Homo sapiens: one gene and its partners. The protein of the gene in region 1 purifies or fractionates together with the protein of each later gene. This does not show direct contact. Each region holds a gene or a part of one and is shown in the gene's direction. Other genes may lie near its edges. The genes, in order: GCN1, ECH1, NDUFA5, INF2, MTHFR, EPB41L1 and SAFB.

Region 1 (4,175 bases):
TTCTTCTGCCTCAGCCTCCCAAGTAGCTGGGATTACAGGTGTCTGCCACTACACCTGGCTAATTTTTTTGTATTTTTAGTAGAGACAGGGTTTCACCAGGCTGGTCTCGAACTCCTGACCTCGCACAGCTCAGATTTACCAGCTCCCCCTATCCCCTTTGTGTGCCTGCCACAGCCTGCACACCCACCCAACTCCAGTATTTCCAGACCTTCATTGGCACTGAACCTCCAAACAGTCACTCTGGTTTTCCTAATTAACAATAAGTAAGCCGGGCGTGGTGGCTCAAGCCTGTAATCCCAGCACTTTGGGAGGCCGAGGTGGGCAGATTACCTGAGGTCGGGAGTTCGAGACCAGCCTGACCAACATGGAGAAACCCTGTCTCTACTGAAAATACAAAATTAGCCGGGCATTGTGGCGGGTGCCTGTAATCCCAGCTACTCAGGAGGCTGAGGCAGGAGAATTGCTTAAACCCGGGAGGCGGAGGTTGCAGTGAGCTGAGATCGCGCCTTGCACTCCAGCCTGGGCAACAAGAGCGAAACTCCGTCTCAAAAAAAAAACAAAACAAAAAACAGTAAGTAAATCTTTACTCTTGGACCCACCTGTATTGTATCAAAAGTGTGCCTGTGTTTCTGTATAGTCAGGGGTTGAACTGGATTTTTAGTTAGGTGGGTACACATTTGTGCAGGGAGGATTCTCCAAGGTCATTTGTTTCACAGGCTTGTTCTGAGGGCTGAATGTGGAGTGCGTATCCTGCTGTCAGTTGCTCAGTAGATGGGCTCTGCAATTATACACTGAGTCCCTTTCCCTGTCTTGGCATTAGAACTGTGCTTCAGTACTGCCGATAGTCTGCCCTGCTTGTTAATGTATTCAGAGGAGGATTTGAGTCACTTATCGATATGGACAGGTCTCCACTAAGCCAAACCCCAACGCAGCCAAGGCTGCGAGACAGCTCCCTCAGATAGCGGCCGCCGCCTCCTCGGCCTCCTGCTCCTCCAGTGTATCAAAGCATGCTGGATATGACCAGGAGGCCAAGCGAAACCTGTCTGTGTTTGGCCTCTCTGACGGGCTATCTGTCCCCAGCCCTGTATGAGAGCTGGACTCGCTGTGGTGGTTTGGGATTGTCATTTGTTCTCATGCCTGTGGTACACTGTGGCTTTGGGTCTACCACAACTGTCTTTCATGGATGTGGGTTCCTCCCACAGGTTGGGATTGCCCTGAAGCCCTTCCTGCCCCAGCTGCAGACCACTTTCACCAAAGCCCTGCAGGACTCCAACCGGGGGGTGCGCCTGAAGGCCGCAGATGCTCTGGGGAAGCTCATTTCCATCCACATTAAGGTGGACCCCCTCTTCACAGAGCTGCTCAATGGCATCCGCGCCATGGAGGACCCAGGTGTCAGGTACGGCGCTGGCAAGGGAGCACTGTGGCCTCCAGGAGGCCAGGGGTTGCTGTGGGCCGAGCCTGCGCTGGCAGGAGGGGTGGTGGTGGAGGCACCCAGGGCTTAAGGCGGTGCATTGCTTCTGCAGGGACACCATGCTGCAGGCCCTGAGGTTTGTGATTCAGGGAGCAGGGGCCAAAGTGGATGCCGTCATCCGGAAAAACATCGTCTCACTCCTGCTGAGCATGCTGGGACACGATGAGGTACGGCTGCAGGCAGGACTAGTGGCAGCACTGGACCACTGGTTTCCCTCCTCCTCCTTAGGTTGAGTTCTTCACTTTGTGTTAGAACCAGTACAGCTCAGTAGTAATAAGCATTCCTGACATTTCTATCACCCTGTATGCTTCACCAACATTTCCTCGGGTTTCAAGGGAAACGGGGCAGGTATTGTGGATATATTGGTTATTTCCGTTTGTTTGTTTGTTTTTTGGCTGAGTCTTGCTGTGTCACCCAGGCCGGAGTGAAGTGGCACAATCTCGGCTCACTGCAGCCTCCGCCTCCTATCAAGCGATTCTCCTGCCTCGGTCTCCCGAGTAGCTGGGATTACAGGTGTCCGCCACCATACCCAGCTAATACTTGTACTTTTAGTAGAGATAGGGTTTCACCATGTTGGTCAGTCTGGTCTCAAACTCCTGACCTCAGGTGATCCACCCGCCTCGGGCTCCGAAAGTGCTGGGATTAACAGGCATGAGCCACCGCGCCCGGCCGGTTATTTCTATTTTATAGATGAGGCAAGTAAGCTTTGTAGAGACCCAGACCTCTCACCTATTTGCTCTCTGATCTTAAAGAAGTCACTTTCTCTGTCTGCCTCTCATTTCCACTTTTGTAAAATGAAGAGGTTTATTTATTGTTTTGTGAAACATTTGCCGAGCTAAAGGGCCTATCCCAGAGGTGCATAGACCTCGTGGTCACAGACCTCAAGAAACTTAGTGTGTAGTGGGATAAATGGTCTCCAGGGTGTGTCCCGGTGGCAAGTCTTAGAGGTCTATTTTCGAGGGTGAGACTTGTCTGGGCCATACCCAGCAAGTAGTAGAGTCCAAACCAGAAGCCCTGGACTCCTGGTTCTGTCCCAGTTCCATCAGCCTCACCTAGTCTGGAAGCATCTGTCAAATATTTGGCTGCGAGCACTGTGGGGCCAGTAGGGAGTTGAGTCTATGGAGAAGAGTTTTCTGTTCCCTTTTCAGACAGCCCTCTGTTGTGGTCTAATTTACTTTGTAGGGCCAATCTAGGAGGAGAGGGCCTTTGGGCTCACATGGTTTTACACGTCATTGACACACACACACACCCACACACACTCCTCCTGCCCACACCTGCAACACACACACTTGCTGCTGCACTTCCCATGGCTCCAAAGGCCTAGTTCTGGTCCCCAGGCGCCAGCTGTCGGACTCCAGCCCCAGCCTTCTCTGTGGGGACAGACAGGAAAGTCTGCTGTCTTGGTCACAGTCTTTCAGGGCTTCTACAGAGTCATGTGTACAGTGCAAGCAAAAGTTAGTATTGAAACATATTTGCATTTTACCACAGTGCAGCTTAAAATAGATGAAGTTGGAGAGAGTCGGTGTCAGAGCCAGCTTTAGCTTGGCACCTGGGCTTCTGCTTCGAGCTCAGAGGCCCAAACTGCTGGCAGTCCATTCTCTTACCCTCTGAACCTCCACTCAGATTGAAGGTGGCAGTTCAGGGTGCCAGCCTGGCATTAGCTTTTTGGGTTATTGAGTCCCTGGTTGGTGGTTTGTTTTGGGGACATGTTGAGTTGGCACCTGTAATAAGGAACATAACTTAAAATCCTCTCTTGGTATTCCATAGTTAGCTGGCCAGGGAGGAGCACGGAGCCGCTCGCGTACCTGGCTCTGATTTGAACAGGAAGTGCTTGCCTTTCCTTATCTTCCTTGGCTTGATTAGTGGCTTTAGTTTGACTTCCTAGGATGAACCCAAGTAATTTCGGTGGCAGTGGGGCACTCATGCAGTAGGGAGATAGCAGGAGTCATTCTGGCCACAAGATGACACAAACTCTGTGGGAGAAAGGAGCTCAGAGTGGCCGTCTCTAGCCGGCTTCCCTGGTGGCTGGGGGCAGGTGCCTCCCCTCCTGCCCCTCCCGCCCCTCCCTGCCTCACAGGGCTGTTGATAGTAATTGAGATAATAAATATGAAACATTCAGCCTTCCTAAGAAGAAAGATGCTATGTAAATACAGTTATTACTGCTATTACAAGGATGATTACCATATGCATACACACTGGGGTTTTCTATAATTAAGTGAAGTGCTGGCTGTGTAATGTTTAACTCCATACCAGTGGCAGCCCAATCTGGCAGGGGAGCACGAGTGCCTACAGGAAGGACTGGATCTTGAGTCTCTGAGTTGGCTTTTCCACCTTCTTTGTTGCTGTCCATCCTGGGCTCTAGAGCTGCCTGCCTTGGTTCCCACACAGCTGGTGTTGTTCCCTGCACCCCCTCACTCCCTTCTCTTCCCTGTCAGGACAACACTCGCATCTCCTCAGCCGGGTGCCTAGGGGAACTGTGTGCCTTTTTGACTGAAGAGGAGCTTAGTGCCGTTCTACAGCAGTGCTTGCTGGGTAAGTACACTGGAGAGTTCCCCTTCAGGGACCTGGGCCTCTCAGCCCTAGCGAAGAGTCGACGGGCATCTCCCTCCCTCCCTCAGAGGATCTTTTAGCAACTGGACTGTCCTTTCCTTGGGAATCCAGCAGTTAAAGCAAAATCCAGGCCAGGGGTGGTGGCACTCACCTG
Region 2 (4,111 bases), on another chromosome or scaffold:
CTCCAAGTCCCCACCAGATTAGCTAGATACAGAGTGCTGATTGGTGCATTTACAAACCTTGAGCTAGACACAGGGTGCTGATTGGTGCATTTACAAACCTTGAGCTAGACACAGAGTGCTGATTGGTTGTTTACAATCCCTTAGCTAGACATAAAGTTTCTCCAAGTCCCCACCAGATGAGCTAGACACAGAGCATTGATTGGTGCATTTACAAACCTTGAGCTAGACACAGGGTGCTGATTGGTGCATTTACAAACCTTGAGCTAGAAACAGAGTGCTGATTGGTGTATTTACAATCCCTTAGCTAGACATAAACGTTCTCCAAGTCCCCACCAGATTAGCTAGATACAGAGTGCTGATTGGTGCATTTACAGTCCCTCAGCTAGACATAAATGTTCTCCAAATCCCCACTAGACTCAGGAGCTCAGCTGGCTTCACCCAGTGGATCCTGCACCAGGGCCGCAGGCGGAGCACTCCTCAGCCCTTGGGCAGTTGATGGGACCAGGCGCCGCCGAGCAGGGGGTGGCGCTCCTCGGGGAGGCTCGGGCTGTGCAGGAGCCCACGGCGGCGGGGGGAGGCTCGGGCATGGCAGGCTGCAGGTCCCAAGCCCTGCCCCACAGGGAGGCAGCTGAGGCCCGGCAAGTATTCGAGTGCAGCACCAGCGGGCCGGCACTGCTGGGGGACCCGGTGTACCCTCCGCAGCTGCTGGCCCAGGTGCTAAGCCCCTCACTGCTCAGGGCAGGTGGCGCCGGCCCACCACTCCGAGTGCGGGGTCGCCGAGCTCACACCCACCCGGAACTTGCGCTGGCCGGAGAGCACTGCGTGCAGCCTGGGTTCCCGCCCGCGCCTCTCCCTCCACACCTCCCTGCAAGCAGAGGGAGCCGGCTCCGATCTTGGCCAGCCCAGAGAGGGGCTCCCATAGTGCAGCAGCAGGCTGAAGGGCTCCTCAAGCATGGCCAGAGTGGGCTCTGAGGCCAGCGAGCAAGGGCTGCCAGCATGCTGTCACCTCTCACTTCCTTCTCTCTCTCTTTCTTTCATTTTTGAGACAGGGTCTCCCTCTGTCACCCAGGCTGGAATGCAGTGGAGCAATCTCAGCTCACTGCAGCCTCCACCTCCTGAGCTCAACCCCTCCCACCTCAGCCCCTACCACCTCCCCTCATCCTCCCACTTCAGCCCCTCAAGTAGCTGGGACCACAGGTGTGCACCACCATGCACAGCAAGTTTTTTCACTTTTTGTAGAGGCAGGGCTTGCTATGTTGCCCAGGCTGGTCTCGAACCCCTGATCTAAAGCGATCCTCCTGCCTCAGCCTCCCAAAGTGCTGGGATCACAGGCATGAGCCACCGCACCCAGCCTCCTGCTTTCTTTCTGCATCTCCCTCTGTTCCTCCTCTTGTTCATTTGTTCATTCATTTGACAAACATTCAGTGACACAGTCCAGTGCCAGAGCCCCCTCCTGGGTGCTGCAGATGTGGAAACGGGAAGCAGCCCCGATTCCTGACCCCTTGCTCTCATAGAGATCATGTCTGAGAACAGAAAAATGGGGCTTTTTTGTGGCTGTGCCGGGCCCAGGTCCTTCATCTTTCAGCTCCCAGCTGAATGTGGCCGTCTTATCTTATTTTCAGCAGCAAGACCCCGAAGGCCAGAAGGAAGAAACGGCAGGTCATGCAGTGACCCAGTGATAGAGTAGAACTACTAATTAGAGAAAGAAAAAGGTGGCCACAATTATGTAGCACTCATGGTGTGTGACGCCCCTTTCTAAGCACGTTAAACATATTAATTCTAATCACAGTCCACAAGACAGGTTCTGCTATAAGCCCCATTTAAAGGTGAAACAGATCCAGAGAGCAAGAAACTTACCCAATAATCACAGCTTGTAAGTGGCAGAGCTGGGATTTTGGAACTCATGCTGCCTGGCTATAGAGTCCTTGCTCTTAGCTGCTAAATGTCTGTCATCTGAGTAGCTGGCATGCTGGTTAAAAGTAAGGGGGATTGCCGGGCGCCGTGGCTCACACCTGTAATCCCAGCACTTTGGGAGGCTGAGGCAGGCGGATCACGAGGTCAGGAAATGGAGACTATCCTGGCTAACACAGTGAAACCCCGTCTCTACTAAAAATGTAAAAAATTAGCCGGGCATGGTGGCAGGCGCCTGTAGTCCCAGCTACTAGGGAGGCTGAGGCAGGAGAATGGCGTGAACCCAGGAGGCGGAGCTTGCAGTGAGCCGAGATCGCGCCACTACACGCCAGCCTGGGCGATAGAGTGAGACTACATCTCAAAAAAAAAAAAAAAAAAAAAAAAAGTAAGGGGGACTTTGGCCTCAGGCTGTGATCTGGATCCTATTTCCACTTGTCTTTTCACCTCTCTGTCCTGCCATTTTCTTTTCTTTTTATTTTTTATTTTTGAGCCAGGGTCTTGCTCTGTCGCCCAGGCTGGAGTGCAGTGGCGCGATCATAGCTGACCGCAGCCTGCAACTCCTGGGCTCAAACGATCCGCCCACCTCAGCCTCCGAAAGTGCTGGGATTACAGGTGACCATGCCCAGCCTCATGTGCAGCTAATTTTTTCATTGTTTGTAGAGAAGAGGTCTTGCAATGTTGCCCAGGCTGTTCTCAAAATCTTAGCCTCAAGCCATCCTCCTGCCTCTGCCTTCCAAAGTGCTGGGATTGCAGGTGTGAGCCACTACGCCCAGCCCCAAAATATACTTTTTTATTCATTTGTTTGCCTCCCCATGAGGACAGGGACTGTTGTCTGTATTGATCATTTATTGAGCAGCTCGTGTGCGCCAGGCCCTGTGCTAGGCCCAGGGGATGCAGCAGTGGACAGAAAGACAAAAACTCCTGTGTTCTCAGAGCTCACATTCTAGAAAGGGAGTCAGACCCTCAAGCAGATAAGGACCTAATTATAGGATAGCAGCTGTGCAGCCCGGAGGTAAGGCGGGGTCAGGATGCGGGGGATGGGGCCATCGTTGAGCCAGGTTGGCCAGGGAGGGCCTCTCTAGGAGGTGACCTTTGAGCTATAGCTGAAGGAAGTGAAGGAGTCAGTCTGTGGCTGTTGAAGAGGGAGGGATGGTTGTCAGCCCAAAGGTCCTTGGCTCCCTCCCTCTCCTCTGGGTCTTTACTCAAGGTCACCTTCTCAATGAGAAGATTCTGTACCACTGCACAGCCCTCAGGCAGTGATCTGGATCCTATTTCCACTTGTCTTTTCACCTCTCTGTCCTGCCATTTTCTTTTCTTTTTATTTTTTATTTTTGAGCCAGGGTCTTGCTCTGTCGCCCAGGCTGGAGTGCAGTGGTGCGATCATAGCTGACCGCAGCCTCCAACTCCTGGGCTCAAATGCACGTGCCCGCACACACACACACACACACACACACACACACAGAGTTGGAGACCAGTGTGCCCAAAGTAACAGGTTGGGAACAGTGCACACACACACACACACACACACACACACACAGAGTTGGAGGCCAGTGTGCCCAAAGTAACAGGTTGGGAACAGTGTTCATGCAGGGTAGTCATGACAAGGACGTTCCATTTTGTTCTAAGAGCCACAGGTGGGAAAAAGAGGGTCTGGGCCGGGCACGGTGGCTCACGCCTGTAATCCCAGCACTTTGGGAGGCCGAGGTGGGTGGATCACAAGGTCAGGAGTTTGAGACTAGCCTGGCCAACATGGCAAAACCCCGTCTCTACTAAAAATACAAAAATTAGCCGGGCATGGTGGTGGGCGCCTGTAATCCCAGCTACTTGGGAGGCTGAGGTAGGAGAATCACTTGAACCGGGAGGCGGAGGTTGCATTGAGCCGAGATCCTGCCACTGCACTCCAGCCTGGGCGACAAGAGCGAGACTCTGTCTGAAATAAAAAAAATAAAATAAAAAAAAAGAGGATCTGACCCAAGAAGGTGTCCACTGGCTTCCCCTGGCTGCCTGTAGGGAATAGACTGGGGACACAGGTGGAAACAGGGAGAGCAGGGTGGGCTCATGGAGAACAACTGATGCAGGAAAGGTCAGATTCAGGATCATCTTGAAGTTGGAGCCACAGAAATTGCTGCATCGTGAGATGTTTCTCATCTCAGGAAACATCACCACCATTGACTGCATTGCTCACGCTGCAGACCTTGAG
Region 3 (4,175 bases), on another chromosome or scaffold:
TCTTGCTACTTTTTCGGTTGAGCCTTTTATGCAGACTTTATGTCGTAACTCATTCATAATCAGAAGCAAGAACACTGAAGTATTATGACCGTATTTAGTTAAATTTGATCATACAGATGTAATGATTATATGTGTTTATTTCTACAGAAATTCAAATAAGAAAAATTAAAAAAAAAAATTTGCAGTGCTTCGGACCTCACTTTGAAAAATACTGATTCAGGCTGGGTGGGCTCACGCCTGTAATCCCAGCACTTTGGGAGGCTGAGGTGGGCGGATCACCTGAAGTCAGGAGTTTGAGACCATCCTGGCCAACATGGCAAAACCCTGTCTCTACTAAAAATAGAAAAAATAGCCAGGTATGGTGGCGGGTACCTGTAATCCCAGCTACTTGGGAGGCTGAGGCAGGAGAATCACTTGACCCCAGGAGGTGGAGGTTGTAGTGAGCCAAGTTCACGCCATTGTACTCCAGCCTGGGCTATAAGAGCGAAACTCCGTTTCAAAAAAAAAAAAAAGAAAGAAAGAAAAATACTGATTTAGTAAATGACTTGATTTCCAAAAAGGTCATTAGCAATAAGTTGTTTTGTTTCTGACCAGTCTGGCCAACATGGCAAAACCCCGTCTCTACCAAAAATTAGCCAGGCGTGGTGGCGGCCACCTGTAATCCTAGCTACTGTGGAGGCAGAGGCAGGAGAATCGCTTGAACCTGGGAGGTGGAGGTTGCAATGAGCCAAGATCATGCCATTGTACTCCAGCCTGGGCAACAAGTGAAACTTCGTCTCAAAAGAAAGAAAGAAAGAAAAATACTGATTTGGTAAATGATTCGATTTCCCAAAAGGTCCTTAGCAATAAGTTAGTTTTGTTTCTACTTGTTATCATACCTTTGACTTATCTAGAACTTGTTATACACAGAAAATACAGAATGTTCCCATGTTTATATACAGGTTTTTCCTAAGTTATAAAGGGTGTAGATAGGGCACAGACATAAAGAAGTCAGAGCAAAGAAGAGTTAAATTAAAAAAAAAAAGCAAAAAAAAAAAACAGATGTGAGTTTTGTTTGTTTTGTCTTTGAGACAAGTGTTCCATTAAGTCTTTGGTAATATTTTAACCTATGGAAATTTGTATGGTTTGTCTTTTCAGAGGCTAAGAATATTGTACACAAAGATTCTTGATGTTCTTGAGGAAATCCCTAAAAATGCAGCATATAGAAAGTATACAGAACAGATTACAAATGAGAAGCTGGCTATGGTTAAAGCGGTAAGTAGCTAAGTCAGTTTTGTTGTCTTGTGTAACATTTAACCAAAAAAGTTTAGTTCCTTATTTTTTATATATTCGACACACTTTTCTTCTATTCTCCTTCCTTGAATGCTCTTTTCCCATCATTCCTCCCTTTTATTCAGCAAACTCTTGTTTATTGAGTGTTTTCTATATGCAGGCCTCTGTTACATACTGGAGTTTGAGACTAGGATCAGATCCTTCCTTGAAGTAACATTGTAGCTGTTCCTTTTACCTCTCTTCACTATTTAGTCCTTTATTGATCTTTTGCTTTTTATCTTGGATATATCAATCTTGATCTCCTTTTTCTAATCTTAGAGAACAATAAAAGCAAAACAAAAAAGGGCATTTTTTTTTCAAAGAAACCTGTCAAAAAGACTAGACTGTTATTAAGTAGCAGTTAATAAAAGTCTAGACTGCTGATTCATACCAAACTATATTGTACTATTGTTAAATTTTCACACTAGCAATCATTAAATGGACTTTATGTAATTATCTAAAATAGTGCTTAGAAACTCTGAAGGTAATTTATATACATGCATAAGTGATCCTAGTCACATATATTTCTTCTTATTAGATTACCAGACTATATAGTTCAAAGAGAATTCCTATCTTTCGTTAGGTATGCAACAAAACAATGCAGTTTGTATTATATCGTATTTTGTATTGTATTATATGATGGGTCTCACTCTGTTACCCAGTCTAGAGTGCAGTGGCACGATCACAGCTCACTGCAGCCTTGACCTGCCAGTCTCAAGCAATCCTCCTACCTCAGCCTCCCAAGTAGCTGAGACCACAGGCACTCACCATCATGCCCAGCTAATTTTTAAAATTTTTTGTAGAGGCGGAGTTTCACTGTGTTGCCCTAGCTGATCTCAAGCTCCTGGCTTCAAGTGACCTTCCTGCCTTAGCCTTCCAAAGTGCTGGGATCACAGGCATGAGCTACCTGCACCCGGTGCCTCACCTATTTTATCATCATCTTTCAAATAGCCTCAAATGTTTTTAGCTTGTTCCTATCTTAAAAATAAAAAAAACTGTATGCTTGTATTTTCCTTTACTTATTGTCCTATTTTTGTTTTCTCCCATAGCCAGTTTCAACCAAAGAAGAGTTTACTCTCATACTTCTTTACTTACTGGTTCCAAAATCCTTTTCTCTGCTATTTAAACTGCCTTATAACTAATTGATCTGTTTGTACTTCCATTATACTTCATTACATGCTCCACCATACAGCCAATAATAGACTGATTTTTTTTTCAATATGTAAATCTTGTGATGGTACAGTTGTCCCTTGGTATCCATGAGGGATTGGTTCCAGGATTCCCATGGATGCCAAAATACAAGGATGCTCAAGTCCCTTATATAAAATGGCATAGTATTTGCATATAACCTATGCACATCCTCTTGTATACTTTAAATCATCTCTAGGTTACTTATAATACTACAATGTAATGCTGTGTAAGTAGTTATACTGTATTTTAAAAATTGCTGTATTGTTATTTTTATTGTGTTTTTTTGAATATTTTCCATCTGTGGTTGGTTGAATCCATTCTTAGTTGAATCCACAGATGCAGATCCTGAGGGCCAACTGTGCTGTCTTGCTTAAAATCTTACTGTGGTTTTCTGTTCAGTGTTTCTCAAAGGCTGAGTTTAAGGATTTATGTTGAGCTGGTTGTATGAAGCTTGCTTAGCTACCTTTATCTGCATGATTTTGATGTGTGGCCATGTTTGGGAACCACTGGCCTAACAGGGTAAAAACATGGTATAGAAGGCCTTCTAAGTTCTGGCTCTTGGTTATTTTCTCAATCTGATCCTGTTGCTTCCTGTTTTATACTCTATACTTAAGCAGTACCAAACTGCTGGCAGTTCTGTGGATTCCTTGCATTTTTATTTTTGTGTTCATTTGTATTTTCTCATTTCCTGGAATGCCTTTACGTTGTTTGGTAGTTCTTACTTTTTCTTCATAAATCATCACTTCTTCTGTGAAACCTTTTCTTACTTTCTTAAGTAGAGTTTGACAACTTTGTTACCTCCTTTCCATTGTACCTTCATGCTGTATTATGTCTCCACCAGCCATAAGCTACTTGTTAATGATATTGGATTCAACTTTGTATCCTTAGACTCTAGCATGGTACCTGGAACATAAGGTTCCTTAGAAATGTGTCTTTATCCCAAAGGCTAGATATAACCCCAAACACTTAACAGTTGTATCTCTGATTCCTGTTTTTGGTAAAATTATCACAGATTTTTAACCCTGCATACAGCCACACACAAAATCTTTAGTGAATATTGCCATTATTATAAAATATCTATTTACTAAGCCTAAGGTGGAAATAAAAGTAACTTTTTTTTTCAGATTATTACTAGGGAGATAGTACTATTTTGGTGAAAAGCGTTGTTTGTGTCCCTGTCCAAGATTTTCATCTTAGTTCTAATACTTATTTGTGGAGTGACTTGGCATATTGCTAGTTTTCTCGGTCTCAATTTCATCATCTATAACGTGGGTATAATAATACCCACCTCGAACACTTTTTGTTAGAACCGAATGAGGTAATGCACGTAAAAGCTTAACATAGTCCCAAGTATATAGTGAGCATTCAGTACATGGTACCTTATCAAGTTTAATAGCATTATGCCATTGGTGACTAAAAATCACATTATTCACTATCGGTAAGACAAATTTTGAACTGTTCACCTAACACAGGCTTTTTCTGAAATGAAAGTGTCGTTGAACTTTCCTTGCCTTCTTTACCTTCACTCTCCTGAGTCTCTTATAACAGTGACCAGCTTCCCTGTTTTGTTTTTGATTTTTGGTCTCTCATATGAGTTAATTCCCTGTTAAATAATCTGTCTTAAACATGCTTATTACTTTTTCCCCTTTTCTCCCCCTTTCAGCTGTTTTTTA
Region 4 (4,175 bases), on another chromosome or scaffold:
CTGCTCTGCGCAGGCCCGGGAGGGTGCCTGTTGGATGGGGCAGGCGGTGGAAACCCCCTCCCTTTGCCCACCACCCAAGCCAGAGCCCTGTGCTGAGTGCCCCTCTGGCAGGGACAGGTGGGGGGTGCAGGCCACTGATCCCTGTCTGTGCCATCCCCAGCTACCAGCTGCGAATCGAGTGCATGCTGCTGTGTGAGGGCGCGGCCGCCGTGCTGGACATGGTGCGGCCCAAGGCCCAGCTGGTGCTGGCTGCCTGCGAAAGTGAGTGGGGCCAAGCGGGGCACGTGTGCAGGAGGGACAGGCCTCCGAACCGGGGCGGGAGGGCTGCTCGGGGCCCCTGCTACTGCCAGTATCATAATGGCTGCTAAGAGCACCTAAGGGTGCCAGCCTTCACCACCACTCCGGAAACCACCCTGCTGCCACCACCTCGGTGCACACACCTACTGGACGCACAGACACACGCATGCCCACCGCCACTCGGGCACGTGCACACACACAAGCACACTGCCACTCTCCGGCACGCGCACACACAAGCACACCGCCACTCAGGCACGTGCACACACGCATGCACACCGCCACTCGGGCACGTGCACACACACAAGCCCACAAGCACAGTCACACACATGCACACAGGACACACAGACACACGTACACACCCCCCCAACACACACACCCTCACATACATGTACAGACATAAGTGCACACACACGGGCACCATCTCTGAAAGGGGAATCCATGGGGACCTGCCACAGCCACTGGGCAGGGAGAGGGACAGGTACGGACCAGTGAGGCACAGCTCACGTCTGTCAGGCACACTGTAGGTGTCCACTCCCGTCGGTGGAGGGTTTGCAGCCCCCAGGCCCTGTCCTGTGATCCTTCCGGTGCTGGGCTGAGCCTGGGGAGGAGCCAGGGAGTGCAGGGGCACTGGCAAGCAGGACCACACCCCACCGCCAGGGCATCTGGGGGCTCCGAACCAAGAGCCCCTCTCCAGCCCTGGCTGCCCCTGCAGGCCTGCTCACCAGCCGCCAGCTGCCCATCTTCTGCCAGCTGATCCTGAGAATTGGGAACTTCCTCAACTACGTAAGTCAGGGGCAGCTCCCCATCCCACCTGGTGCCAGGGGCTGGTGAGACTCACTCCCTGCCCCTCCCAGGGCAGCCACACCGGTGACGCCGACGGCTTCAAGATCAGCACATTGCTGAAGCTCACGGAGACCAAGTCCCAGCAGAACCGCGTGACGCTGCTGCACCACGTGCTGGAGGTGGGCCGTGGTGGCGGGGGCATAATGGGAGGGCTTCAAGTCCCCCCGGACCTGGGGTGTAGAGGCGTAGAGGCCATACCCCCATGCCCACCACTCAGGCCGCCGGTCTCCCTGTCTCAGGGCTCCGTCTAGAGCCAGCAGCCTCAGTCAGAGCCACGCCCCCACCCCTCCCAGCACCCCTTCCTTCCTGCAGCACTGGCTCCCCTGCACGAGCCTTGTCCCTCCCCAGGATACCTGTCCCTGATCTGGGGGACAGTCCCTAGGAAAAGCAGAAACATCACAAAGTCATAGCCAGGCCCAAGGGAAAGATTTGAGGGTCTGGAGTACTGGGGGTTTTCTGGACCTTAATTGCTAAGGGTTAGAGCTGGGGGAGTGGGAACAGGGTCATCCCCAGGTGGAGAGTATGACCACAGTGGATCTCACTGGACGTGTCCCATTGCAGGAAGCGGAAAAGAGCCACCCCGACCTCCTGCAGCTGCCCCGGGACCTGGAACAGCCCTCGCAAGCAGCAGGGTAGGTAGCTCCTGCCAGCCCGCCCACCTCAGCCAGGTGGGGGCCTGACTTCTGTCCCCAGGCAGTGAGGTGGCTGCCCGCCAGGGCTGGGTCTCACAGCTGCAGCGCAGCCCCGGCGCCACGGAGCCCTGCCCAATAGAACACTTCCCTTTTGGGACAGGACCGGGTCTGCCGTGGCCTATCCCCTTCTGACTTAAGCGAGGAAACAGGCCTAGAGTGGGCAAGGGCTGGCCAGGTCAGGGTCACACCACGGGCAGGTCTAATACAGCCCCTTCACAAGGTGGACCTTCACGACAGCCGTGAGCAGGCTCGGGCCTCCCTCATTGTATAGATGAGGAAACGGAGGCCCAGGAAAGCAGTGTCACCTCCTGGGTCACACAACCCAGGCAGGAGGGCAGCCTGGGCCACCCCACTACACAGTCCGGGCCCCTAGCACGGAGTTCTTCCCGGGCTCCACCTGCCCTGGAAGGTTCTCTGGCTCAGGAGCTGCTCAGCCTTGGGGAGAACTAGGCAAGCAGGACAGGCTGACCGTTAGGGTCCCCGCCCAGATGCTCACAGGGGGCTGAGGGTCAGCTGGAACAGGCACTCAACCCCAACACTGCACGTGCAGCCTCAGAGTACAGCCTGCAGGGTGCACAGTGGGGTGCCGGGGGGTGCAGGGGAGGGGCTCCCCTGTCCCAGCGAGGCTGACGTCAGCCGTTGCTGTCTCTGCCCGGCCCTCCTCACCTTTCAGGATCAACCTGGAGATCATCCGCTCAGAGGCCAGCTCCAACCTGAAGAAGCTTCTGGAGACCGAGCGGAAGGTGTCTGCCTCCGTGGCCGAGGTCCAGGAGCAGTACACCGAGCGCCTCCAGGCAAGTGGGCACCTGGGCCTGGGGCTGGCGGGAGAGGCTGCCCTGATAGAGTGAGCTGGGCGAGTGGCTGTGCTGTCTCCTGGCTCCAGGGTGGATCCTGGGGCCCGAGTTTCCCCAGGTGTGCATGGTCAGGGCACAGGCCCCTGCTCCTTGTCAGAGACCACCGTCCTCAGGGCCTGTCCCTGTGGCCGTCACCCTCCCGCAACTCAGGGCCTCACCCCGGGTGGTGCCCGCGCGGGGCTCTCACGGGACTGTCACGTGCCCTTGCCCCCAGGCCAGCATCTCGGCCTTCCGGGCACTGGATGAGCTGTTTGAGGCCATCGAGCAGAAGCAACGGGAGCTGGCCGACTACCTGTGTGAGGACGCCCAGCAGCTGTCCCTGGAGGACACGTTCAGCACCATGAAGGCTTTCCGGGACCTTTTCCTCCGCGCCCTGAAGGTGGGGCAGCCCGGCGGGACACAGCCTGTCTGGCTAGAGTGGGGTCCCGAGGCCCCTGGCCTTCCTCCGGCAGGATGGGCAGAGGCACCTTTCGTCGGGCCGACACAGCCATGTGGGCCCTGCGCTGCTGCGGCTCAGGGAGGGGGACGCCCAGGCCCATGGAGCCCCTGAGGGATGCCACGCTGGGGTGACGGGGCCACATCTGCCAGTGCAGGAGAACAAGGACCGGAAGGAGCAGGCGGCGAAGGCAGAGAGGAGGAAGCAGCAGCTGGCGGAGGAGGAGGCGCGGCGGCCTCGGGGAGAGGACGGGAAGCCTGGTGAGGCTGGGCCGGCTGGGCGGGGAGGGGGTGACTCTGGGATCCTTGTCTGTGCTCCAGCCTCCCCACCACCCCCAGCCCTCTAGGTGGGCTCCAGGGTCCCATGCCGCTCTCTGAGTGCCCCACGCTCCTCAGTCAGGAAGGGGCCCGGGAAGCAGGAGGAGGTGTGTGTCATCGATGCCCTGCTGGCTGACATCAGGAAGGGCTTCCAGCTGCGGAAGACAGCCCGGGGCCGCGGGGACACCGACGGGGGCAGCAAGGCAGCCTCCATGGATCCCCCAAGAGCCACAGAGCCTGGTAAGACCCTCTCCCACTGCCTCCTCATGGTCCCCTTGCCACTGTCCCTACCCTGTGCCTCCAGGAAGTCCTCCTGACTTCACTGGAAAGCCCTCTCCTCTCCCTGGGCCACCCTGGAGGCCCCTAAGACTGGGGACAGCCGAGGGGACAGGTGGTGGCCGCTCAGCCCTCATCCCTCCCTCCACTCACTCCAGCTCCTCCACTGTAACCGCAGGCCCTGCCCTCAGTGCTGAAGCAGCAGTCCAGCCCGCTGGGCTCCAGAGAGATGAGGCCAGGCCCACTGACCGATGCCCTTGGGCTCAGAGGGTGCTAGAGGTGGCAGGAAAGGCAGGCGGCAAGGCCCTGGTGGGAGGACCCCATTCCTGGGGTGGCTGCCTCAGGGTGCTGGGAATGGCATGGCCCAGTGTCCCCCACCCTGCCACAGTGTAGACAGACCAAGGACGCTGAGGCCGGGTCCTGCTCTGAGACATCAGAGGAGGCTTTCTGGGGAGGAGGT
Region 5 (4,175 bases), on another chromosome or scaffold:
TTTGAGTAAACCCAGCTTAATCCCTGATAGGCACTGGTTCTAGAGGAGATGTCAATGTCATTGTCAGCTTGCACTGGGGAGGATGGAATGTGTGGGGCCTCTCTCCCATGACTCGGCCTGTCAAACCAGTTGCTGCTGTTCAGAAATGGCTTCTTCGTGGAGTCTTCCCTGACTGATTGGGAGAGGGGTGGCTGATAGCCCTCAGACCTGTCCAGACTGAGAAACTCACGTCCCCACTCCCCTCACCCTTTGCTTATGGACGTGCCAACGCCACAGTTCATTATTCCGCCCACATGGCTGCCAGTAGTCCTGATACCTTAGGTGTCTGCGAAAGGGCGTCTGGCAGGGCTGGGGTTGGTGACAGGCACCTGTCTCTCCCACAGGCCTACTTAGAGTTTTTCACTTCCCGCGAGACAGCGGAAGCACTTCTGCAAGTGCTGAAGAAGTACGAGCTCCGGGTTAATTACCACCTTGTCAATGTGAAGGTAGGCCAGGCCCCAGGGTTCCCACAGAGTACCAGGCCCTTCGTTGAGCAAACACCCAGCACCTAGCCTGGGCTAGGCATTGTGCAAGACAGAGAGATACAGGCAGAACTGGGGCCCTGCTCTTAAGGAGCTCCCAGCCTAGAGTGAGGGAGGCAGATCAATGTGTGACCACCAGCCAGTGTAAGTGGGAAAATCAAGTTCAGGAGAGGATGCTGTCGGGTCCAGAGGAGGGATATCTCACCTGGGAGGCCAGGGAAGGCTTCTCAGAGGGTCATCTGTGGGAATCACTGAGGACAAAGAGGAGTTGGCCAACAGGAGAGAAGGGTATTCCTGGGACAGGGCAGAGGACAGGCAGAGGCAGTGAGCTGCACCATCTGGGGAAACGGGGAACATGAGCAGGAGGAGGCGGGAGTGTTAAGCAGGGGCCAGGCCCGCAGAGATCATGGTTGTCCTGCTGGAATTTGAGTTTTCCCTCAATGCAAGGGAAGCCTTTCTCCAGCAGTGGGGTGGCTTGGTTCCTGCTTTATTTTAGGCAAATCACAGTGGATAGTCATACGGATGAGAGAGATTGGGGACGGCTAGAGCCGGGGAGGCCAGTGAAGAGACCCCTGGAGTGACCCAAGCCAAACACACTCCTGGAGGTGGGCTAGACAAGAGGGAATGGATCAGAGAGTGAGCAGGGGGTGCTCAAGGAGGAGAGGGGAAGTGGCCAGGACGCCTCTAGGTTCAGGCTTGTGTGGGGAGAGATATCATTCACAGATGCAGGCAGAGGAGGCCAGGAGCGGAGGCACAGGGAGAGGGGAGTGGAGGCGCAGGGAGAGTGGAGGCCGGGAGTGGAGGCGCAGGCAGAGGGTATTGAGCCCAGACAGCCTCATTGAGTCAAGGCTGTCCAGGCAGTGGGACTCCAGTTGTTCTTGGCCCAGGTCTTACCCCCACCCCACATCCCCTCAGGGTGAAAACATCACCAATGCCCCTGAACTGCAGCCGAATGCTGTCACTTGGGGCATCTTCCCTGGGCGAGAGATCATCCAGCCCACCGTAGTGGATCCCGTCAGCTTCATGTTCTGGAAGGTAAAGGAGCCGGGGGCAAGCTTGCCCCGCCCACCTGGAAAACCGTGGGGAGGGATTGGGACCAAGTCCCAAGCGTGTGCTGAAGGCCACACTGGACCCAGCCTTCAGGGCACACCCAGCTCTGACTCACCCATGTCACTGCTGATGCAGGGTGTTTATTTCTGGGCAGGGGTGGGAAGTGATACTGGCAGTGGGCCTTGTTCTATTCCGGGAAATGTCCTGTTGAGCAGAGCCCTTGGAGAGCCCTGTTAATCTTGCCTCTGTGTGTGTGTGCATGTGTGCGTGTGTGCGGGGGTATGTGTGTGTAGGACGAGGCCTTTGCCCTGTGGATTGAGCGGTGGGGAAAGCTGTATGAGGAGGAGTCCCCGTCCCGCACCATCATCCAGTACATCCACGACAACTACTTCCTGGTCAACCTGGTGGACAATGACTTCCCACTGGACAACTGCCTCTGGCAGGTGGTGGAAGACACATTGGAGCTTCTCAACAGGCCCACCCAGAATGCGAGAGAAACGGAGGCTCCATGACCCTGCGTCCTGACGCCCTGCGTTGGAGCCACTCCTGTCCCGCCTTCCTCCTCCACAGTGCTGCTTCTCTTGGGAACTCCACTCTCCTTCGTGTCTCTCCCACCCCGGCCTCCACTCCCCCACCTGACAATGGCAGCTAGACTGGAGTGAGGCTTCCAGGCTCTTCCTGGACCTGAGTCGGCCCCACATGGGAACCTAGTACTCTCTGCTCTAGCCAGGAGTCTGTGCTCTTTTGGTGGGGAGCACTTGCGTCCTGCAGAGGACCACAGTGGGTGGCACCTCCTGAGAAGGCGAGGAGAGTGGTTGTTGCCAACTAAGCCCTCGAACCAAGGCAGCCTCCAGAGCCAGCCTGGGACTCCCAGTGAACTTACACTTGGAGCCCGTGCAGTACAGGCAAAACACGCAAGGGCATCAGGCACTGGTGGCATCGTAGAAGAGATGTGGCAAAGTGCTGTACCCTTCCACCTCCTAGAGGTGGGCAGCTGGGCCCCACCTACTTGTGACTGAAGGGGCACACCACTGCCCTGCCTGCCCACTTAGCCGTCCATGGCACCAGCCCCCTGGATGGGCATTGGGCTGACACCTACCATGCTGCTTTTTGGCACAGTTGTCTATTCTGAGCCTTGAGAGAAAAAGTGCCCCTTAAGGGTTGAAGGCAGTCTGAACCCTTGTGCTTGGTGGGGCTCGTGGCCTTCCCCTTTTGCCTGGCTGTGGAGGCCTGATGCTGCCCCGTTCCCTGTCAGAGGCTAAGATGAGATTTGCCAGCACAGGGGCCCCAGATCTGCCTGGGCCTGTGCAGCAGCCCAGCTTCCTGGTGTATTTTTCAGGTAGGCCCTTGTCCTGCCAGCTGCCTTCCTCATCCCCTCGTCCTGTCCCAGAGGTTATCTGCCTGGCCTGGCTCCCCACGAGTCACCTGCAAGCCCCAGGGCCTGGGGGCAGTGACTGGCAGGTGCAGATGGGCTGTTTCGTGTAGTGGAAGAGCAGCCTGATGGCCAAGGGGGTGGACGCAATTGTGGGATGTCCTCTTTACTCCCTTCCTGGCCTCACTGGCTGGGGCAGAGGGGCAGCCGCTAGGAGAGACTGAAAGCAGCAGCTAGGACTGAGGAGTGGGTTTTATTGTCCTTCAGAGCTCTTCAAGCTGTCCCCTCTGTCATCACTCCCTGGATGTGTGGGGCATGGTTCCTTCCCTGGGAAGGCTAAGTTCAGTTCTGTTTTTTATTCTATGAGAACAAGTCACAGCTGCAGCTGGGCCCCATGCTCTGCCCCAAGCCCCCAACCCCGCGGTGCTCTGGCGGCTTCCTGTCCACTCTCGGGGCCCTTGGGGCCTGGCTTGCTCCAGGGTCTTGGGCTACTGGCAGCTCCTCTCCTTGGGCTCCTGGCTGCCAGGCGTTGGTGCCACTTCTTAAAGGCCTGGAACCAGGGAGGAGAGGAAATGCTATTGTTGTGGGCTTTCTCCGGGGTCTGTGCTGTGCCTGCTAGAGCAACCCCTGTACCCAGCTCCTTTTGTCCCCAGGGCCCCTCCCTCTGCCCCAAGCAGCCAGCCAGTCTTGCCTAGGCCAAATGCACAAGCTCAGAATAGATCTGATGGTGAGCTGGGAAGCTGTACTCAGAGCAGAGCAAATGAGGGAGGGGGCGCTCAGGACCCAGGCCCTCCATGGGCTAGTGTGAGTGGCAGCCATGCCTCATGCCACACCTTCTTCGCAAACTGATGGACCGGGTGGGCCTGGCCTGAGCTGGGGCCACAAATCAAAGCAAGGGCTCCAGCATCCAGCCTGTGTGTTCTGTAATGGAACTGACCCCCTCCCCTGAAAACGAAGGGGCCCCGGGGCTGGCAAGCAGGGAAAGCTCCACGGTGCGTGGCTGTGGCACAGACTTCTGGAAGGCTGGCTGAGTGGAATGCAGGGAAGAGGGCAGTACCTGGGAAAGGACCCACCCATCTTCCTGCTGCTGTAACTGCTGAGCCACTCGCAGTCGCAGGATCCGCTGCCACCACGTCTGCCAGGCCCATCTCAGGTGCCACTCCCTGAGCTTTGGGGACAGTTGGCAGAGAAGGCCTCTTGTGCTCACGCTCCCCCGCAGTCCCCAGCCCTTC
Region 6 (3,455 bases), on another chromosome or scaffold:
AGCACTTTGGGAGGCTGAAGCAGGAGGATTACTTGAGCCCAGGGGTTCAAGACCAGCCTGGCCATCATAATGAGACCTTCGTTTCTATAAAAAATGTAAAAGATTAACTGGGTGTGGTGGCTGGCACCTGTAGTCCCAGCTACTTGGGAAGTTGAAGCGGGAGGATTGCTTGAGTCCAGGAGGTCCAGGCTGCAATGAGCTATGATCGCGCCACTGCACTCCAGCCTGGCAATAGAGCAAGACCCTGTAAAAAACAAAAAACAAAAAACGAAACGAAGGAAGGAAGGAATAGATGGATACAACTAGGTTTTGGAGCTAGAAACACCTTGGTAGCTGTGTGCCCAGAGGAACCTCTCTGACCTCAGTTTCCTCATCTGCAAAATGTCATTAATGTATACATTGGAGTTGCTGTAATAACTAAACAACACCTGTGATATACTGGATCTGTGTCTTGCCTACAGAAGGGGCTCAGCAAGGTGAACCTGCTTCCTTGTCCCTCTGAGGTTTTTCCATGTTTAGAGGTTGATGAGAGTACTGAGAAAGTCAGATCGTAATTCTCCACCACCAGCCTGGTGCCTGAGGCCCTGTCTCCATGAGGGTGTTTGTCTTACTGGTCTTCATCTTCTGTTCCTTCTGCAAATCCTCCAGAAACATCTGTCCCTGCTTCAGTTAACTCTGTCTTCCTTCTTAAAGTTCTTCCTTCTTGAAGTTCTTGCTATGAGCGTGGAAAGTCACTCATGTCACACAGAACCTTTTCCCTTCTCTCCCTGCAACCTTGCAGGTCAGACGTCTGGTTTCTGCTCCATCTTCTCCCACTGGCCCACCTCCTTCAGAGAGGACCTGTCTCCCAAACACCACCAGCAAGAGGGCAGCACTTGCCTAGCTTCCTAACCTTCCAAAATTTAATGGGAAAAAATTGACCTGTTCCAAAACAGGAACCTTGGGTTTTAGTCTTGGTTTTGCCAACTTACTAAGCCTGAAGCCTCTGGGCCTCGGTTTTCCTATGTGTCAAATGAGCCAAGAAAGATCCATTTTCTGTGATTCCGTTAGCACTCGACTGCATGCAAGTAGCAGAAATGATGTTTCATCCATTAAATGGTTTTGAGTAGTTGCTATGTGCCAGGCACAGTGTTGAACACTGGAAAGACAAGAGTTAAAAGATAGCCCTTACCCTCAAGGAGATCAGAGTAGTGTGTGGTTAAATTAACAACAGCAACAATCATCATAATAAGAACAGCCAGTATTTATTCAGCACTTACTATATGCTGGGCCCTTGCTTCAGTTCCTCCCTATAATGGGAGGCAGAACCTATTTTACGGAGGAAGCAATTGAGGCTTAAAGAAGTTAAGAAACTTGCCAGGCACTGTGGCGTGCACCTGTAATCCCAGCTACTTGGGAGGCTGAGGCAGAAGGATCACTTGCAGCCAGGAATTCAAGGCTGTAATGTGCATTGATTGTGCCTGTGAATAGCTATTGCACTCCAGCCTGAGCAACATAGTAAGACTCGTCTGTTAAAAACTGTTTAAAGTAAAGGAAGTTAAGAAACTCACCCAAGATTACAGAGCTAGCAGGCCCATAGAGTGGGATTTGAACTCAGGGAGTCTGATTTCAGAGCCTGCTCCTTTAAACACTGAGTTTTGGAGCCAAACCTGGAATCCAGACTTCATTTCTTTATTTAAACACTGCTGTCTGTGGTTTAATCTCCAGGACACAGCAAGCCCACGGACAACAGAAAGGAAAACCAAATGAAAAAAGAACATCTGCAATCGTGACTAAACATTTCTTAGAGCTGACAAGATAGGAAGAAAAAGTAAAATGATGATGATCTTAGCTTCTCGGTGTTAAAGGACATTTTAACACATTGTCAGGCCAAAGTAAAAGATTACCACCTCCCTGGAAACAAGCGAGCAAACACACATGGGCTCTGGAATCCAACAGATGTGGGTTCGGTTCTCTGCTGCCACACACAAGCTGCGTGGCCTTGGAGTGCAATAGCTACTCACAGGCATGATGATTACACATTACAGCCTTGAGTTTCTCACCTCAAGAGATCCTTCCACCTCAGCCTCCCAAGTAGCTGGGATTACAGGTGCAAGTCACTCTACCTTGCTGAGTCACAATAAAGGGCATATGGTAAAGGGTAGCAAAAACAACCTCTTGCCATGTATTTTAAAACAAGTGACAGAAGTTACTAATTTTTCTTGTCCTCTTCCTTCCTTTCCCCCCACTCCCCACCCCCCATTCTACCCCATGCCTCTGGCTTCCAGGAATCCTGACCTCTGTGAAGAGATCCTGGCATTTCTGGTCCAACCCAAGCCAGAGAACCATTAAGAAGGGGCCTTCATTCTGGATTCTCCGACGCAACACTGACGTCCCAGCTGCGACGTACTGTCACTGATGAGAGACTGGGAAGGGAAAAGCATATATATATAGATATATAGAGATATAGATATATATACAGGAAACACCGCATCCTTGCACTGCTGCTGGGGCTGGCAGAGCAGTTGGCTGACAGCAACAACCGACATCTGAACACCTACATTTCCTTTGCAGACAAATTGAAGAACTGGTGGGATTTTTTTCAAGAAAAAAAATTATATAATAACTATAATCCCTTGCTCACCCCTTTCCCCCGCCAAATAAGAAACGCAAGCCAGACCACGATGATTGTAGAAGTCCCTCCCGCCCTGGTTCTGCACGTTACAGTTAGCAGACGAGCAATTCCATTTGTTCTTCTCCAGCATCTCTAAGGCCCACTTGAATGCAAAGGAAAACACTTGCACAGCAAAGCAAGAGAAGTCACAGCAGCAAGACACGCACAGTCAACCATTTTCCGAGAAAAAAAGAAAATTCCCCACTTGGAAAGAAAGAGGAGGAACACTGGATTCTTACTTTCTGGATCTTGACACTGGGCTGCAAAACCTACCTTCCTCTCTCCCGCCTCCCCTCACCCTCAACTCTCAATGTCTTGCTGTCATTTTCTGTCTCGGCTCCCTCCTCCCCCTTCCCCCTTCCCCCACCCCACACCCTTCACCCTCTGTGTCCTGGTCCTTCTGAGGGCCACTGCAGATGACTCTCCTTTGAAATGAGAAAAAGAAAAGAAAGCAAGAACAGAAAACGAAGCCACAGGAAGGGAAGTAGACATTGTATGCTTATGGTTTCTCATTATGAAGGTGCAGCTTGTAGGAGGTTTGTACGGATGTGCTTTGAAGTTATGTATATTACATATAACAGGAAAAAATATTAAAATAAACAGTGCTGGTAAGTATGAAGCTGACATTCTAAAATTATAATTATCTGACTGTGATTGATGTATCCTGAGGTTCCTAGATCTCACTGAACTGGCCCAGCTAAGGAGACCTGGACTCTGGGTGTGGGTTGGCTCACAGTAGGGGCTGACGGGTTCAGTGTAGTAATACTGTGTGTGGTGTTTGTAATTGGTTGATTGGTGGGGA
Region 7 (4,175 bases), on another chromosome or scaffold:
TACAGAGCTATACGTGGAAAGAGAAACAGTGCATTGTTGACACCAAGGTTGACTGTTCTGCTACATGGCCGTTGCACACTGCACTTCCTCCTGTAATTAAGCGATCGCTAACTTTTTTTGAGACAGAGTCTTGTTCTGTTGCCCAGGCTGGAGTGCAGTGGCGCGATCTCAGCTCACTGCAACCTCTGACTCCCGGGTTCTAGAGATTCTCCTGCCTCAGCCTCCTGAGTAGCTGGGATTATAAGCGCCCGCCACCACACCCAGCTGATTTTTTGTATTTTTAGTAGACATGGGGTTTCACCATGTTGGCCAGGCTGGTCTCGAACTCTTGACCTCGTGATTCGCCCACCTCAGCCTCCCAAAGTGCTGGGATTACAGGCGTGAGCCACCACACCCGGCCCGCAATTGCTAACTTTCTTAGGAAACCTCACATTGTCCCAATAGCCCCACTCAGTATTGTGACGGGCCCTGTGGTAGTGCTGCTGGGCCTGGTGTTGCACTGGAGGCTCTTGGTGAGGATAGTGGTCAGGCCCACAGCCCCATTTGGCTTTTAGTGCTGCCACTGCCTCAGGAAAAATGGGAACCATGTCTCTTTTGGAAAGGTTGTCTCTAAGACTCAAGATCTTGTGGGTATTTGGGTTTTTACTAGAATTTTCTTTTGAAATAGGTCGCAGCAGTTGTGGTAGAAATTTCTGGGTTAGTGGACTCTCTTCTACAACCAGAGCTACAGATTTGAAGAATCTTTTCAGCAAATATGGGAAGGTAAGTGCCAGAGCTTTTCTGGAGAAGATACTTTGAAACCAGCGTTGTGTGGCCTTTACATGGAGGTCCTCTCCCCTCAGTGAGTTCTTTGAGAGATACCAAGGAGCTTACACTTGCTAATGGCTGGGGAGGGTCTGCCCGTCCACAGGTAGAGGTGAGAGTGGTGTGGAAGCTTCCAGAGCCCACATCACCACTGTATTTCCCTCCCTTCTCTGCGAGCTTGCCCCCTTCCCTGTGATGGCTCGTGGATCCATTTCTGTGTCCTCAGGACGTCGCACTCAGGCTGGGCTGCCAGGGTTGGCTGGTGGGGTGCTGGTCAGCATGTCTGGGAGACAGCAGTGTTCTTAGAACAGTGTTCGTGATGCTGGAACTCAGAACTCAGAACAGGGACCCTGGAGTCTGATGATAGGGGTCCTCACCACGGGTGTCTTGGGTCCATTGACTGAACCTCACCTCAGCAGCTGGGGGCTCTCAAAGTTGCTGCCTCAGTTCACCACTGGGGGCAGTTCTAGTGGCCTCTTGTCTGCAGCACCTGCCTTTCCTGAGCCCGTGAAGGTGGGGCTGGTGGCACCAGCCCCCTACCTGCAGTGCCCAGCGCAGCCGCCTGGCCCTCCTCCCTGTGCTTTCTCACTCCCTTCCTCCCTGGTGTTTCCCAGACTTGCCTCCCAAACAGCCTCCTGCATTCAGGGCTCCTCGTCTCTCTCAGAGTCGGTTTCGGGGACTACCAAAGGAAGGAGTCCAATCCTTTGTGTTACACAGTGAGGGTTCAACACATTGCAATATAGAAAACCAAGTGTTTTCCCTGATACTGACTTCGAAGAACTTAAAAGAGGATAAAACAGGCTGGGTGTGGTGGCTCACGCCTGTAATTCCAGCACTTTGGGAGGCCGAGGTGGGTGGATCACGAGGTCAGGAGTTTGAGACCAGCTTGGCCAGTATGGTGAAGCCTGTCTCTGCTAAAAGTACAGAAATTAGCCGGGCGTGGTGGCGCATGCCTGTAATCCCAGGTACTTGGGACGCTAAGGCAGGATAACAACTTGAACCCAGGAGGTGGAGGTTGCAGTGACCCGAGACCGTGCCACTGCACTCCAGCCTGGGACAGAGCAAGACTCCATCTTAAAAAAAGAAAAAAAAAAAGGATAAAACTAATTATGTCATTATTACGGACATAACTAAGGGCTTCTTGAGCCTCAGTGATACAAGGTGTGTGGCTGGCAACACCTGCGCCAAGTCTCCCCTACTAGACCCCCTTTCCTGACTCCATGGCGTCCCCCAGCGGGTGGGTGTGCTCAGTGGGGAAGTGTTGCCCTGGAGACTGTAGTGTCTTGAGCGCAGCAGGCCTGATGTGGGTTAATTAGAGGACCGGGCCTCTCTGAGAATGTCCTCTGGGACTAGGATTCCATGTGGCATGATGAGCATGATTACCAGCCTCGGCCACTGGCTGCTGCAGGGCTTTTCCTGAGCCATGGTGTCTTCTGCCGTCAAAGGGCGACCCTAACTGCATCCTGCTGGAGTCGAGAAAACCAGGTAGACTGGAAAGGATGTGTCTACAGTAACTGAAACACATCACTGCGTTTTGTTACAGTCAATGATAGGGCAGATCTGAGTTCCAGAGCACGGCTCACAGACCTTTCCTTGCATCAGTCTGTGCCGAAGTCTTTTTTTTTTCTTTTTTCTTTTTTTGCCCACATTACATCACTTCATAATTTACCACCTACGTAGCATGACTGTATATTTGGAATCATTTCTTCACAAGTTTTAGACCATATTAAAGGAACACTGGCAGAACCCTGTTTGATTTCCCTTTCGTCTGTTCCCCTACATTGCCCTCCTGGCCCCCTTGAGGAACTAGATGAGCGATTAGAACTGGCCAGAGGTCCTTGGAGGAACAACAGCGAAACAGAAGCATTAGTAGCATTGTCCTCCCCAGTCTAACACTTGTCGGACCCCTGATGAGCAGACTTCCCTGTGGGGTGTTCATATCCCCATGCCCCGCTCAGTGGGCTTCATGTCTGAGTCATATTTGCCTGCTTTCCTTTGAGGTGGTGGGCGCCAAGGTTGTGACAAATGCCCGGAGTCCTGGAGCTCGCTGTTACGGTTTTGTCACGATGTCCACAGCAGAAGAGGCCACAAAATGCATTAACCACCTGCACAAGACGGAGCTCCACGGAAAGATGATCTCCGTGGAGAAAGTGAGTGGCCGTTTTCTTCCCAGGATATAGCCCACATTAGGAAATGGGGGTAATACTTGATTCTCTTTTTCAGGCCAAAAATGAACCTGTGGGAAAGAAAACCTCTGACAAAAGAGACAGTGACGGGAAAAAGGAGAAGTCGAGCAACAGTGACAGGTACCCCTCCTTCCTGGCTAAATTAAAGGGGCAGGGTGTTTTTTGTTGTTGTTGTTTTGTTTTTGAGATGGAGTCGCGCTCTGTCGCCCAGACTGGAGTGCAGTGGTGTGATCTCGGCTCACCTCAACTCCACCTCCTGGGTTCAAGCAATTCTCCTGCCTCAGCCTCCTGAGTATCTGGGACTAAGGTGTGCACCACCACACCCGGCTAATTTTTGTATTTTCAGTAGAGATGGGGTTTCACCATATTGGCCAGGCTGGTCTTGAACTCCTGACCTTGTGATCCGCCTGCCTCGGCCTCCCAAAGTGCTCGGATTACAGGCGTGAGCCACCATGCCTGGCCGGGGCAGGGTGTTTTAAACAGAATCTCACTCTGTTGCCCAGGCTGGTGTGCAGTGGCAAGATCTCTTTTCATTGAACCTCCACCTCCCTGGCTCAACCAATTCTCATGCCTCAGCCTCCCGATTTGCTTGGATTATAGCCATGCCCATTTGTGGTTTTAGTAGAGATGGGGTTTCACCATGTTGGCCAGGCTGGTCTCGAACTCCCGGTCTCATGTGATCCGCCCGCCTCATCCCCCCAAAGTGCTGGGAATACAGGCATGAGCCACCACGCCCAGCCAACATGTCTGTTTTTTATAGATCTACAAACCTTAAGAGGGATGATAAATGTGACAGAAAAGATGATGCTAAGAAGGGTGACGACGGAAGTGGAGAAAAGAGTAAGGACCAAGATGATCAGAAACCTGGCCCCTCAGAGCGATCTCGAGCCACAAAGTCAGGTGGGCAGCTCATGAGCCCAGGAGATTCTGTCTTGTTTCTGTGCCTAGTGGAGTTTGTTAGTTTGCTGTGATTAGCTGGCAACGGAAACTGGATTCATGTTGCAGAGGGTTTTTCTCATCTGGGTATTCTTGGTTTTCCACTTACACTTTCCCCGTCTTTTCTGTAGGAAGTCGAGGGACCGAACGGACTGTAGTAATGGATAAATCCAAAGGGGTGCCTGTGATTAGTGTAAAAACGTCCGGGTCCAAAGAGAGAGTGAGTATTAATTTTCTAACTAGGGTATT

The links.
Region 2: the proteins of GCN1 (region 1) and ECH1 purify together in Homo sapiens (co-immunoprecipitation; one large-scale study listed by IntAct). This does not show direct contact.
Region 3: the proteins of GCN1 (region 1) and NDUFA5 fractionate together in Homo sapiens (co-fractionation; one large-scale study listed by BioGRID). This does not show direct contact.
Region 4: the proteins of GCN1 (region 1) and INF2 fractionate together in Homo sapiens (co-fractionation; one large-scale study listed by BioGRID). This does not show direct contact.
Region 5: the proteins of GCN1 (region 1) and MTHFR purify together in Homo sapiens (co-immunoprecipitation; one study listed by IntAct). This does not show direct contact.
Region 6: the proteins of GCN1 (region 1) and EPB41L1 fractionate together in Homo sapiens (co-fractionation; one large-scale study listed by BioGRID). This does not show direct contact.
Region 7: the proteins of GCN1 (region 1) and SAFB fractionate together in Homo sapiens (co-fractionation; one large-scale study listed by BioGRID). This does not show direct contact.

The regions. Positions count from the first base shown.
Region 1 is NC_000012.12:120,131,754-120,135,928, reverse strand, and holds part of GCN1 (stalled ribosome sensor GCN1), read left to right. Parts: intron 1-1,202; coding exon 1,203-1,396; intron 1,397-1,523; coding exon 1,524-1,638; intron 1,639-3,906; coding exon 3,907-4,003; intron 4,004-4,175. UniProt on the Homo sapiens protein: Ribosome collision sensor that plays a key role in the RNF14-RNF25 translation quality control pathway, a pathway that takes place when a ribosome has stalled during translation, and which promotes ubiquitination and degradation of translation factors on stalled ribosomes.
Region 2 is NC_000019.10:38,818,239-38,822,349, reverse strand, and holds part of ECH1 (delta(3,5)-Delta(2,4)-dienoyl-CoA isomerase, mitochondrial precursor), read left to right. Parts: intron 1-4,111. UniProt on the Homo sapiens protein: Isomerization of 3-trans,5-cis-dienoyl-CoA to 2-trans,4-trans-dienoyl-CoA.
Region 3 is NC_000007.14:123,547,549-123,551,723, reverse strand, and holds part of NDUFA5 (NADH dehydrogenase [ubiquinone] 1 alpha subcomplex subunit 5), read left to right. Parts: exon of another isoform or gene 1-356; intron 357-1,137; coding exon 1,138-1,254; intron 1,255-4,175. UniProt on the Homo sapiens protein: Accessory subunit of the mitochondrial membrane respiratory chain NADH dehydrogenase (Complex I), that is believed not to be involved in catalysis. Complex I functions in the transfer of electrons from NADH to the respiratory chain.
Region 4 is NC_000014.9:104,709,928-104,714,102, forward strand, and holds part of INF2 (inverted formin-2), read left to right. Parts: intron 1-160; coding exon 161-261; intron 262-1,009; coding exon 1,010-1,080; intron 1,081-1,151; coding exon 1,152-1,259; intron 1,260-1,701; coding exon 1,702-1,772; intron 1,773-2,505; coding exon 2,506-2,626; intron 2,627-2,900; coding exon 2,901-3,065; intron 3,066-3,279; coding exon 3,280-3,382; intron 3,383-3,517; coding exon 3,518-3,679; intron 3,680-4,175.
Region 5 is NC_000001.11:11,788,588-11,792,762, reverse strand, and holds part of MTHFR (methylenetetrahydrofolate reductase (NADPH)), read left to right. Parts: intron 1-383; coding exon 384-485; intron 486-1,436; coding exon 1,437-1,556; intron 1,557-1,864; coding exon 1,865-2,083; coding exon of another isoform or gene 2,084-2,223; 3' UTR 2,224-3,303; coding exon of another isoform or gene 3,304-3,493; 3' UTR 3,494-3,719; coding exon of another isoform or gene 3,720-4,111; 3' UTR 4,112-4,175. Other genes in the region: uncharacterized protein C1orf167, read right to left, coding at 3,720-4,111. UniProt on the Homo sapiens protein: Catalyzes the conversion of 5,10-methylenetetrahydrofolate to 5-methyltetrahydrofolate, a cosubstrate for homocysteine remethylation to methionine. Represents a key regulatory connection between the folate and methionine cycles.
Region 6 is NC_000020.11:36,227,065-36,230,519, forward strand, and holds part of EPB41L1 (band 4.1-like protein 1), read left to right. Parts: intron 1-2,267; coding exon 2,268-2,276; 3' UTR 2,277-3,455. UniProt on the Homo sapiens protein: May function to confer stability and plasticity to neuronal membrane via multiple interactions, including the spectrin-actin-based cytoskeleton, integral membrane channels and membrane-associated guanylate kinases.
Region 7 is NC_000019.10:5,650,311-5,654,485, forward strand, and holds part of SAFB (scaffold attachment factor B1), read left to right. Parts: intron 1-667; coding exon 668-762; intron 763-2,804; coding exon 2,805-2,954; intron 2,955-3,027; coding exon 3,028-3,110; intron 3,111-3,750; coding exon 3,751-3,890; intron 3,891-4,057; coding exon 4,058-4,146; intron 4,147-4,175. UniProt on the Homo sapiens protein: Binds to scaffold/matrix attachment region (S/MAR) DNA and forms a molecular assembly point to allow the formation of a 'transcriptosomal' complex (consisting of SR proteins and RNA polymerase II) coupling transcription and RNA processing.